Linked DNA regions of Homo sapiens: region 2 is linked to region 1. The links come from fine-mapping of genetic effects on plasma protein levels. A gene starts in region 1. The other region holds a variant in brackets. All regions are shown on one strand. Distances are between the middles of the regions. Region 1 holds the start of FNDC1 (fibronectin type III domain containing 1). Region 2 has its middle 120 kb from the start of LINC02529.

What was found. A credible set is the group of variants that fine-mapping cannot tell apart. PIP is the posterior inclusion probability: the model's chance that the variant is causal. The UK Biobank Pharma Proteomics Project read protein levels with antibody pairs (Olink). The fine-mapping took linkage between variants from a reference panel, not from the people measured, so its PIPs are less certain.
Region 2: its variant is the best candidate, but not a certain one, in a credible set for the plasma level of the FNDC1 protein (UK Biobank, PIP 0.85).

Annotation. Positions count from the first base shown.
Region 1 is chr6:159,166,687-159,171,991 of GRCh38, reverse strand. FNDC1 (fibronectin type III domain containing 1) reads right to left here and starts at 2,592. Exons shown (of 23, transcript NM_032532.3): 1 at 2,287-2,592. The coding sequence starts at 2,395. It overlaps FNDC1-AS1 (FNDC1 antisense RNA 1), which reads left to right and starts at 1,985. Exons shown (of 4, transcript NR_121668.1): 1 at 1,985-2,180; 2 at 3,231-3,459; 3 at 4,638-4,743. RefSeq lists an enhancer at 1,238-1,737 and a silencer at 2,544-2,713.
Region 2 is chr6:159,500,984-159,506,351 of GRCh38, reverse strand. No RefSeq gene overlaps it. Among named protein-coding and RNA genes, the nearest start is that of LINC02529, 120 kb to the right of the region's middle. The variant G/C (reference allele first, on the strand shown) is at 2,430.

The DNA.
Region 1 (5,305 bases):
CAGTAAGACACCCGCAGTTTACCCATCAAGCTTTTGCACCCTCAGTGCAAATGTCAACTGTGAAAAAGGAAAATAGCATCTTAGTAATCTTAGTATTACTTTGAAAATAGTTTTGACATGGAAAATTCCCTAAAAGCTTCTTTAAAGAAGAAAATAAAAATCATCCCTAACCATCCTAAGATACCCACTGCAAATATGTGCATGTGTGAGTACATCCACATGTGTTTAGAAAAATGTATCATACCAGACTGGCAAGGCCATCATAATTTTAATGTTTGCATAGTATCCTATTGTAGGGATGAATATGAGTGGAGGAGGGGACACTGCTTGCTTATTTTGTTTTATGTTTAATTGACCCTACACTGAAGGGCTTATCCAGATCTTCAGTGTGTCCTGCTTTAAGCAAAGTCCCTCGGAGCCACTATTATGTGGCCGTGGGTAATTTCCTTACAGAGATTCTGGCCCCAAAAGGGTGGTGAAGGGGAGAGCTTGACACAAGCAGCTCGCTTGGTCCATGCATTAGTTCAACCAGAGAGAGGGAGCAGTCTATCCATGACGTTGCTGTCAAAGGGAGCCCATGAAAGAAGTTATGTACCCCATAATTTCATCCACAGCATGGGGAGCTATCTACAGGTTGCTATGTCTGTTTCTATCCTTCTATTACTTAATTTAAATTTAGTAGATTTCATTCTGAAATGTGCCTGTCCTCCTTTGTCCACCTCTAGTCTGGTCATCATTTGACTGTAGATCCCACGTCAACACAGTAGAGAGAAGGGCTGGGAAGCTGTCCAGCCCCAGCATTCCTCAGCACAGTGATTCACAGAGCAGAAGGCGAAAAAGCAAGAGTGCAGATCGCGGTGGGATTCCAGGAGCTCTCACAAACAACCCCGCTCGGACCCACTCACATGCAACCCACGGGCAGGTGGCAGAGGAATCGGAAAAGCAGAAGGCTGGAATCGCCACAAAGCCAGGGCAGCACTGGTTCCAGTTTCAGATCATTTTCAGAAACAAAAACTCTTCCAGCACTCTGAAAATTTTCACTTAGAAAAACAAAAGCCAGGAGTTGTAGGTGGGGAAGTTGGAAGACTTTATTTAGTTTTATTCCTCTCAAGTACTGTGCAAAGTATTCAGTGAATACTTTCCTAGAGTTCACTAATGGGAAGAAAAAGACCCTACGGCAGGCACTGCCTTTTATGAGAAAGTGGCATTGGCATCAGAATACCTCGCATAAACCTGAGCCAAGCATTGGGATGATGTATCTACCAAAAAGTCACAAAGTAATGTGATCCCCAACTTTTCTTCCTTTACCCCTGAAGTAAGAGAACAATATATACACTAAATAGCATCATAAAACTGGTACCCTCGTTGGAATAGTATCTGACGATCATTGTCTGCTTCTTGGATTTCTACAAACCAATAACCTAAAAGCCAGTTTCAAGTGTAAAAATGCCTGCAAAGGAGGTGGTAACAAGGGCCGCCAAAGGCTTAGGAATGAAAACCTCGCCACAAACTTGTCTCTCTCTGCAGGAAGCTTGCAAGAAATCTGACAGGAGCGCGCTAGCATTTTCTGAAAAGCATTGCTCTCAAAGGAAGCATCCATCCTGGCTGCAGCCTCAGCCATTGGGGAAGGGCGAGTTTCTCTGGAATCAGCTTTCTCATTTCCCTCTCCCTCCTCTCAAGACAAACATTTTCTCCCAGCTTGAACGTTCCCCCCGGGCGCGCGGGCCTCCTGCCGCCTGGAGCCGAGCTGGCACTGGAGCGCTTCTCCTCTGGAGCGCAGAGGCACCCGACGCCCTGCGGCAGCTCGCAGCCTTTCCCCCACGACCTTCTAGAACAGCCCTGCTCTGCCTCCCTCCGGTCTCCCGAGTGCGCCCGTCATCCTGCCTCGCGAGAGGTGAACGCGGAGAAAGTAGGATGACCACCTACGCTCCCGAGAAATTCTGGGCAAAGAAAGGCATTACCCCAGTCCGCACGCTGAAAGTCGCCTTTCTTTTCCTTTTTTCCCCGCTGTGCCTGAATCTCCCGGGACACTTAGACGGCTGGAGCCTCCCGACTCCAAGGCGGGCGACGGCAAAGTTAAACGCCAGCGCGCTGCGGTCCCCGGGCACCGAGGCGTCCCCGCTCCCGCCACCCACACAGGGCGCCAAGTGCCCCGACCCGCGAGTGACGAGGACGCACAGGCTAGTGACACGACCCGTAGCCAGCACTGAGCGGGACGACGGGGCCCGAGCGCAGGAGGGTGCGCGGGGAGCTGAGGAGCGCCGGGGGCCCGGGCGCGGCGCGTACCTGAGGCCGCCGCCGAGGAGGCGACGGGGAGCAGCGCGGCCAAGAGCAGCAGCGCCGCCCAGGACAGCCGGCGCGGCGCGCGCAGGGTCGCCCCGGCCTCGGGGGCCATCGAGAGCCCGGGGTGGGCCGGGGCTGGGTGCTTGCGGCTGGCAGGGGGGCGCTGGCCGGAGTCTGGGGAGTGCCGAGGCGCCGCCGTCGGGTCCCCGCCGCCGTCCGTCTGTTCTGCGCGCTCTGCGCGGTGCCCGCCGCGCCCCTGCCCCGCGGCGATCGCTCCCGGCCGCACACCGGCAGCCGCGCTCCGCCACTGAGGCCGCCGACCTCCCGCCGAGCCTTTTAGCTGCGCTCGGGCGCCCCCTGCCGGTGTGCGGGGCCGGGGCCAGGGCCGGCGGGGGCGACCCGGGCGACAGGGGCGACGGGGGCGGCGGGGCCCGGGCTGGAGGCGGGCGGGGCGCGGGACGAAGGGGCCGGAGCGCCCCGGACTGACTTAGCGGTTCTGAACTTGGGGCGGTCGCTGTGCCGGGCCAAGTGGCTGAGGAAGTTCCTCCCCTCGTCTAACCCTCTCATTTTCTGGCTGGGGAAGTCGCCCATCGCGCCGAGGAGTGCCCTTTGTCCCCTTACAGAAACACCTCTGCGCCCCAAGTGGGGACTCGGGCCGGGACCCCTCACCCGGTCCGCAGCGCTGTAGTTCCTGTGGCTAGCCCAGTCCTTCCACGTCCCTACCCGCACCCGGCGCGCCCACGTCAGGGGTTTTCAGCGTCCTTAGACCCTGCTCCGTCTGGCTGTCATTTCTAGGGCGCGCACGATGCGGGTCGAAAAGGAACCCAGTTTTCAGTGTGCCTTGTTGCCCAGGCCAAGGACTCAGCGGACCTCGCCTCTCCCTTTTCTGTAATTGTAACACTGCCCCAGGTCTCCCTATTCCTCCTTCTCCCTATTCCTCCTTCCAGCCTGGAAGCCTCGCGGCCCTCCAGATGGACTCGGAGCGCCCCTGGAGGCTACAGTGACCTAAGCTCTAGGAAGGCCGGGTCCTGGACGCCGCGTGCTGCTGTCCGCCGCCGACCGGTGTCCTCGCAGAGATAACCTGGCTGAACTCACCGCCCAGCGCTATGTCAGTTCTCCCTCATGACAACCCAAAACTTGACCGGATTTGTGTTCTGCAGAGAGGAAAAAAAAAAGGTAAATGAATTGCAAAGAGATGAAAACCAGAAATACAGTATCTCTTTGAATTTGAGCACCCAGGAAAGGTGTAAACCTACCGCCTTCCTTTCCAGGAAACTCTCCTGCTTCCCAGCAAAGGTTTTTGTTTGTTTGTTTTTCTTTTTCTTTTTGTTTTGAGACAGGGTCTCCCTCTGCCTCTGCCGCCCAGGCTGGAGTGCAGTGGTGCAGTCTTGGCTCACTGCAACCACCATATCCCAGGCTCAAGCCATTCTCCTGCCTCAGCCTCCTAAGTGGCTGGGACTACAGGTTTCAGCCACCATGCCCAGCTCATTTTTGTATGTTTTGTAGAGACAGGGTTTCCCCACGTTGCCCAGGCTGGTCTCCAACTCCTGAGCTCAAGCAATCCGCCCACCTTGGCCTCCCAAAGTGCTGGGATTACAGGCGTGAGCCACCACGCCCAGCCCAAACACACTTTCCTGCATTACTCCCTTATGTTATCATGTTTCCCCACATGCCATTTAATGGAGCTGTGTGGTTTCTGTCTCACCAGCAGCCACCCGGCTCTGCCTATTTTGGGGGAATGGTAGCTCCCTCCCCAACTCCAACCAAGTGACAGGCCCCCTCCTTACTCCCACTCCTTCCCAAAGCCCCACTTCCCCACTGGCTCAGGGCTCTGCAGTGGCCTAGACAGGGTCACTCAGAGTTGGGACTCTTCTAACACGGGCTGGTGGAAAGGTCTCTTTCTCCCATCATTCGTGGATTTGGAAGGATGGTAGCCATGGCAGGCTGAAACACAGCCTTCCTCCCCAAAAAGACATTCCTGTCCTAGTCCCTGACCCTGTGAATGTCACCTTACATGGTTTATTAAAAAGCAATTAAGCATGCTGAGACAGAGAGATTATCGTGGATTATCTGGGTGGGCCCTAATGCAGTCATGTATGTAACTTATAAAACAGAGGAGAGGGAGATTGACGCACACAAGAGAAATCCAGGTGAGGACGGAGGCAGCCATGGGAACGATGCACCCACAGCCCAGGGATGCTGGCAGCCCTCACCAGAGGCTGGAAGAGGCTCCTCCAGAGCCTGTGCTGGACTTCAGGCCAGTGGAACTGATTTCAGACTTCTGGCCTCCAAGACTGAGAGAGCAGATTTCTGTTGTTTAAGCCACCCACCCCGTTTGTAATTACTTCTTACAGCGGCCACCGAACACCAGTGCAGTAGCCAGGATGGGCCTGTGGCTCTGGCTGCAGCCTCCAGGGACACCAGCTGGAGAGAAGGAAGCCACGCATGGAGAGCGGCCAGGTGGGTAGAAAAGAGCCGGGCAGATGCAAGAGTCCCGGGCTCCACCTCACCCCTGCGCTTTCTGAACGCTGGTTCTGGGGACAGCACATTCCCTTTTGCTAACTTGGAATGAGATTTCTATTTTCTATAACCAATGAGTCTTGACTAGTGCACTCCCCCCTGTTCTTAAGAGGACAAGAACCAAGACTTATCTTTATTGCTCATCTGTCACCCAAAAGAGGCCATCACAGAACCAAACACAGTAATATCCAGGAAATGCTGAGGTTAATTGCCATTCATTCATTCATTCAGCAAATACTTATTGTGATCTACTCTGTCCCCAGCACTGCTGTAGACCCCGGGGATTAGCAGTGACTGAAAGCAGATGAATAGCAGGAGTTAAGTTAAAAGCAGAGAAGGGGAGGCAGCACTGAGGACTTTACAGGCTGCAGGAAGGGTTTAGGCTTTCAATCTGAGAGGTGAAGGGCAACACTGGAGAATTCTGATCAGAGGAGACACGGGTAAGCAGGCTCTTACAATCCCAGTGAGGCAAGACGGTGCTTGGACATGATGGACAGCAGTG
Region 2 (5,368 bases), 330 kb before region 1:
GCCCTGTCTTCCTCATTGCCCTAGAGCCTTCTGAGGAGGCCTCATATATGTGAGGTTGTGTGAACAGGAACCACCAGAGTGGCTGGGAGTTCAGTGAGGGCAGGGGTGTGTCTTCCCTGTCCCCATAATTTATACCGCAGAGTGCAGAGGCCCCTGATGACAAGATGCAGGAACTTTTAAAAGCCATCTGAGGAACTTCTAAAAAGATCCGTGCCTTCTGCTTCACCTCCCCTCCAATTGGAGGTGAGGATTCCCGAGGTGAGGGCAGGATGGCTGGGCGTCAGTATTATGAAAATGTCCCCCAGGCCCAGGGCTGGGCCCACTGCTGTGGGGGGCAGCTCAGCAGAGCTGTGCGGCTGTCCATGACATGGGAGACCCTCCCTAGGGGTGGCACAGGGAGGTTGTCTTGGGGAGAGGACAGGCACCCTGATATTTGAACTGGGACCTTCCCTTCTCCTTTCTTTCCCTGCCTCATGCGGTGGAGGGCAGGGACCCAGCCTGGAGGGTTTGGGGATGAGGTCATGGTCAAGGAGAGCTCTGGGCGCTGGGCTCGGGCTGCCTGGCCAGACTCAGGTGGGTGGGGCAGGAGCTGGAGTTGGCCTAGTTGTTCCAGGAGAGTCTGTTTTTCTAAAGGAAAAAGAATCATGCTAACGAGCCTGGCGCCCTCCTGAACGTCTCTAACAGGCCCCGTTCTGACTGGGAACTCTGGCTGTGCGCCCTCTGCTTCAGCCTAGGGCCAAGGAGGTCCCCTAAGAGAGGACTCTAGGCAGCTCAGCCTGCCTCATCAACCCAGGCAGGGCTCAGGGGTTGCCTTGGCGGCACTTCCCGAAGCAGACCCCATCCCGCCGTCATCCTGCACCTTCACTCATCCCGGGTCTCCTGCCACCTGCGTCATGGCACAGGGAGGCGGTTGCCCTTTGTTACAGGATGAAAGCTTCGAAGTCTCCACTCATTTGCTCACCTCGCTTCTCATTTGCAGAGCTCTGAGCTTGGCTGGGGTAGAGCACACCCAGGCTCTGACACAGTGGGAAACAAGCTTGGTGTTCAGTTTTGGCTGTGACACTGTCTTCCAGAGAATAATCCGGGCTACGAATTCTCTGGCAGGAACATGAAGTCCATCTGGCTGAGGGGTCTTTGCCCTGACACTCTCAGATGTGGTGCCCTGGTGTTCTGTTCCCATTGCTCAAAGCTGGACCCTGCAGCTTCCAGCCAAGGGCACCAGCATAAACCATTGTGTGTGGGTTCCACGTGGGGGCTTTCAGCCGGGGCTGTTTTGCTCAGGAGGCGATGTCTGCCTAGGTCTGGAGTCCAACAAGGCAAGCTCACTGAGGGCCCAGGGAAATTCCTGGGCAAAAACTCCTCTTAGGGAAAGAGAGATGAGGGGAAACAGCCTGGGTTGGTGACAACAGGCCCTGTGGGGGCCTGGGCTGTACTGACCACAGCTTGGTGTGTATCACCCAGTGTCCATGCAGACCTGCCCTCAGCCTACACCCCGTCCATTCCGCGGTGGGCACCAGGAACCTTGGCAGGGCATCAGGCTGGCAGCCAGGGAGCATGGCAACCTGGTGGACATGGTGGCAGCAGCAGCGCCTGGGGCTGACATCAGTTGCCTCTTTTACTGGGGAGAGGAGTAGAGAAAAGAAAAATGGTGGGTGTGGCACCTGACACGGAGACTCCTATGGTCTGGAAGGATGTGAGGTGCTGCCTAGAGCAAGCAAGCACGCAGCCGGAGAAGGACAGTGCTCACACTGCAACCACCCGGCCCAGCACGGTGTGAAAGCACAAGCACCTACAGGACAGTCCTTAGACACACGAGACACTTCCCAGGGCTGCTCCCAGGAGTGCAGGAACCTCCCACCACCACAGCACCAGCTCATCCTTCGACTTTCCTGCTTACCAGAAGCTGGGCATCTGGCTGTTTTGAGCAGGCCCAGCACGGCCTTTGCATGCTTGGGAGGAAACCTCGCCTCGCAGAACTGCACAACAGGTGCATGCCGTGTGGTAGGATTTGGAGAGTTTCAGGATAGTTCAGCTTGGCCGTTTTCCTCCACGTGGGTTTGACAGTGTCTGGAACTCTGCCAGGAGGAATGCCCCATTGGCACAGCCCTCTTCTAACTCCAAGAAGGGGATACTCCTGGATCACAGCTTTCCATAAATAGTTAGGTATTGTTCACACCAGGATGTGTGATCTCCTGGAAGAGGGTTTAAAGGCTCTTGCTCCTGGGGGCTGCCTTCCACTGCAGCTTAGGGAGGACGTCTCACAACTCCTTACGCCTTCATTTTTAGTACAGTGACCTTGGCTTTGCAGATGCTTACATTTTTTGTTCGTTTTTTTTTTTTTTTTTTTTTTTTTTGAGACGGAGTCTCGCTCTGTCGCCCAGGCTGGAGTGCAGTGGCGCGATCTCGGCTTACTGCAAGCTCCGCCTCCC[G/C]GGTTCACGCCATTCTCCTGCCTCAGCCTCCCGCGTAGCTGGGACTACAGGCGCCCGCCACCACGCCCGGCTACTTTTTTGTATTTTTTAGTAGAGACGGGGTTTCACTGTGTTAGCCAGGATGGTCTCGATCTCCTGACCTCGTGATCCGCCCGCCTCGGCCTCCCAAAGTGCTGGGATTACAGGCGTGAGCCACCGCGCCCGGTTTTTGTTCGTTTTTTAAAAGAGCTACCTGGGTTAGGTGTGTGTAGAAGGTTAGTTAACATTATCTGAGCTGATACTTACCATATGCTAATATATAATATGGCTCCTAATGCTATTAAAGTGCTGACTTCTGAGACCAGATTTGCTCCCTGTCAGCAGAAACTCTTTCTCGCTCATGGCTGGCCTCTGCGTTTTCAGCCCCAGGGCTGAACTGACACATTTTGTTGAGTGAGTGTAACCCACAGGTATGAGTAAGTAACATATGAAATCTCAAAGGTCCAACAAGACAATCACTTAGCAAGTGGATGGTATGCCTTTTTTGTTGTTGTTTTTGTTTTGTTTTGAGATGGAGTCTCTCCCTGTGGCCTAGACTGGAGTGGCATGATCTGAGTTCACTGCAACCTCTGCCTTTCAGGTTCGAGCGATTCTCCTGCTTCAGCCTCCCGAGTAGCTGGGACTACAGGCGTGCACCACCACGCCCGGCTAATTTTTTTTGTATTTTTAGTAGAGACAGGGTTTTGCCATGTTGGCCAGGCTGGTCTAAAACTCTTGACCTCTGGTGATCTGCCAGCCTCGGCCTCTCAAAGTGCTGGGATTACAGGCACGAGCCACTGCGCCTGGCCTAAGTAGATGGGTTTTAATCCCAGACATAGGAAAGACAGGACGCAACCTGGGGAAAAGAAGGGTGAGGATTAGGGACTTCATCCAGCCTCAGCATGAAGGACTCGACTTTCCCTATCCAAACCCAGGAAGAGCTAAACCCTCCATCCGTAGCTCTAGAGGCCTTAGTGAGCATCTGGCATTCTGCTGAGTGTGTTTGACTTGGGGAGGGTTCCATCTCCAGCAATTCTTGCAGCTGATAAATTTTTACAGCAGAAAGTACTTGATCATCAGCAGGAAGTTGATGAAGACTGTGTACTTGAGGCCGAGAGATTTTTGTGTGTTTCAAAACGGAAAGGTGAGAATTTGTAGATAAAGAAATTGAGCTCTATCTGAAGCTGGGATAGGAGGTTTGATGCCTGGAATTGAGCAGGCCAGTGTGGATCTGATCGAGGACAGACAGAATCAGGATGTGGAGTTTGGTAGAAGAGCCTGAACTTGAGCAAGACCAGGCCAGAGGTGGCAGTGTCCAAACCACACTATGGATGTATCTGTATGTTTTGTGTAATTTTTCGTATGCAACTGTGTTTCATTTGTTTTTTAATCCCTTGGCCTGTGTCCACTACCCATTAATTAGAGGCTAACACATACTTTGTCTTCTAATGGCTATTACTAGATTTGGTTTCTCACTTACAAAATAACTTCCTCCAGTCCTTAGGTCTCAACTTTTTCTTCTTTTTGGTTGGGATTTGGGGATTGGCAATGACAAATCTTTCATACTTTTTGTGGGGTGTTTATGGGCTTCTTGAAGTCTTAGGCACTGAGAAAACATGCAAAGATTGCTCTGTCTCCTCCAACCCAATTTTTCAATTTACCCCACCCCTAATTGTTGTGTTCATCTTCCTAGTATTTTGGGACTGTATGAACAGCAGATGTGAACCTACTTTTCAGGTGGAGAAAGCAAGACACAGAGCTGTTCAGACAATCAGAGTTAATAATGTGTTTGAAAGAGTTTTGTCTTCTAAAATCTACATAAATATGAACTACTGCTTCTGTTGGAAGAATTTAGAAGTTGCTGTGTTCTTGATGGGTCTGCAGAGAAGTGGGAAGCAGGGACCACAGATGCATTTGGTTGCTCTGTGAGCTGATCTTCTAGAGCATATGTATATATTTTTTATCTCTAAGGCATCATCCTTTCTTCCCAGAAATTCTTTCAACAAGTTGTGTGTGTCATGCAGGAGATATCAATAATCATTCCTTTGGTTGTACCACCTGTAGGTAAAAGCTTGATGTAGGTGGTATTTTGGGATCTGGTAATTTATGGGTTTTTGTTCAATTTAGAGAAGACATTCAAACTTTCAGGCCTGCATTGTCAGCATATAATATGGTCCTACTCTGAGATGATTCTCAAATTTTAGACAAAGTCAGAAGGTCATTCTCTAAAAGTCACTAAGAAAAGTCAACATAATGAATGAACTTAGACCATCTGCAGAAGGTTCCTACCTAAAGAAGTGATTTGTTAATGTATCACCAACAGAGACTTGGAAAACACATAAGTTTGCTTGTTGTAACAAGACATGGCTTCAGGAAGACAGGTTAAGAATGTTGACCTAACAGAAGATGATAACACAGGTGATGGTTTTGTAACTTGCCTATCAGAAAACGATGTTGTTAGTGGTGATTTATTTAAAAAGGAGTAAAAGAGTATGGACATTTGTGTTTATTTAATAGCATATGAAGTATAGATGGAAGCCTCAAGATTTTTCATTGTTGCTTTGGTTTTGTTTTTACTTTTTTATTTTGAAATGATTTTCAGATTTACAGAAAAGTTGCAAGAATAGTACAAAGAATTTCCATATACCTTTACTTAGATCCCCTAAATGTTAACATTTTGCCACATTTGTTTTCTTTCTTTCTCTGTCCCCGTGTGTGTGTGTGTGTGTGTGTGTGTGTGTGTGTGTGTGTGTGTGTGCTGTATTTCCATAACAAACATCTAGTTTTACTTAAGTTGTTTATTGGCTGGGGGAGGCAGTGTGAAGTGGGGTGGTGGGTGGTGGGGGGTATGCTGATGGAATTTCTGGGAAGGAGCATTAATGTCTCTTGAAATTTATTGCTTTGTCTCATTATTTACAAGT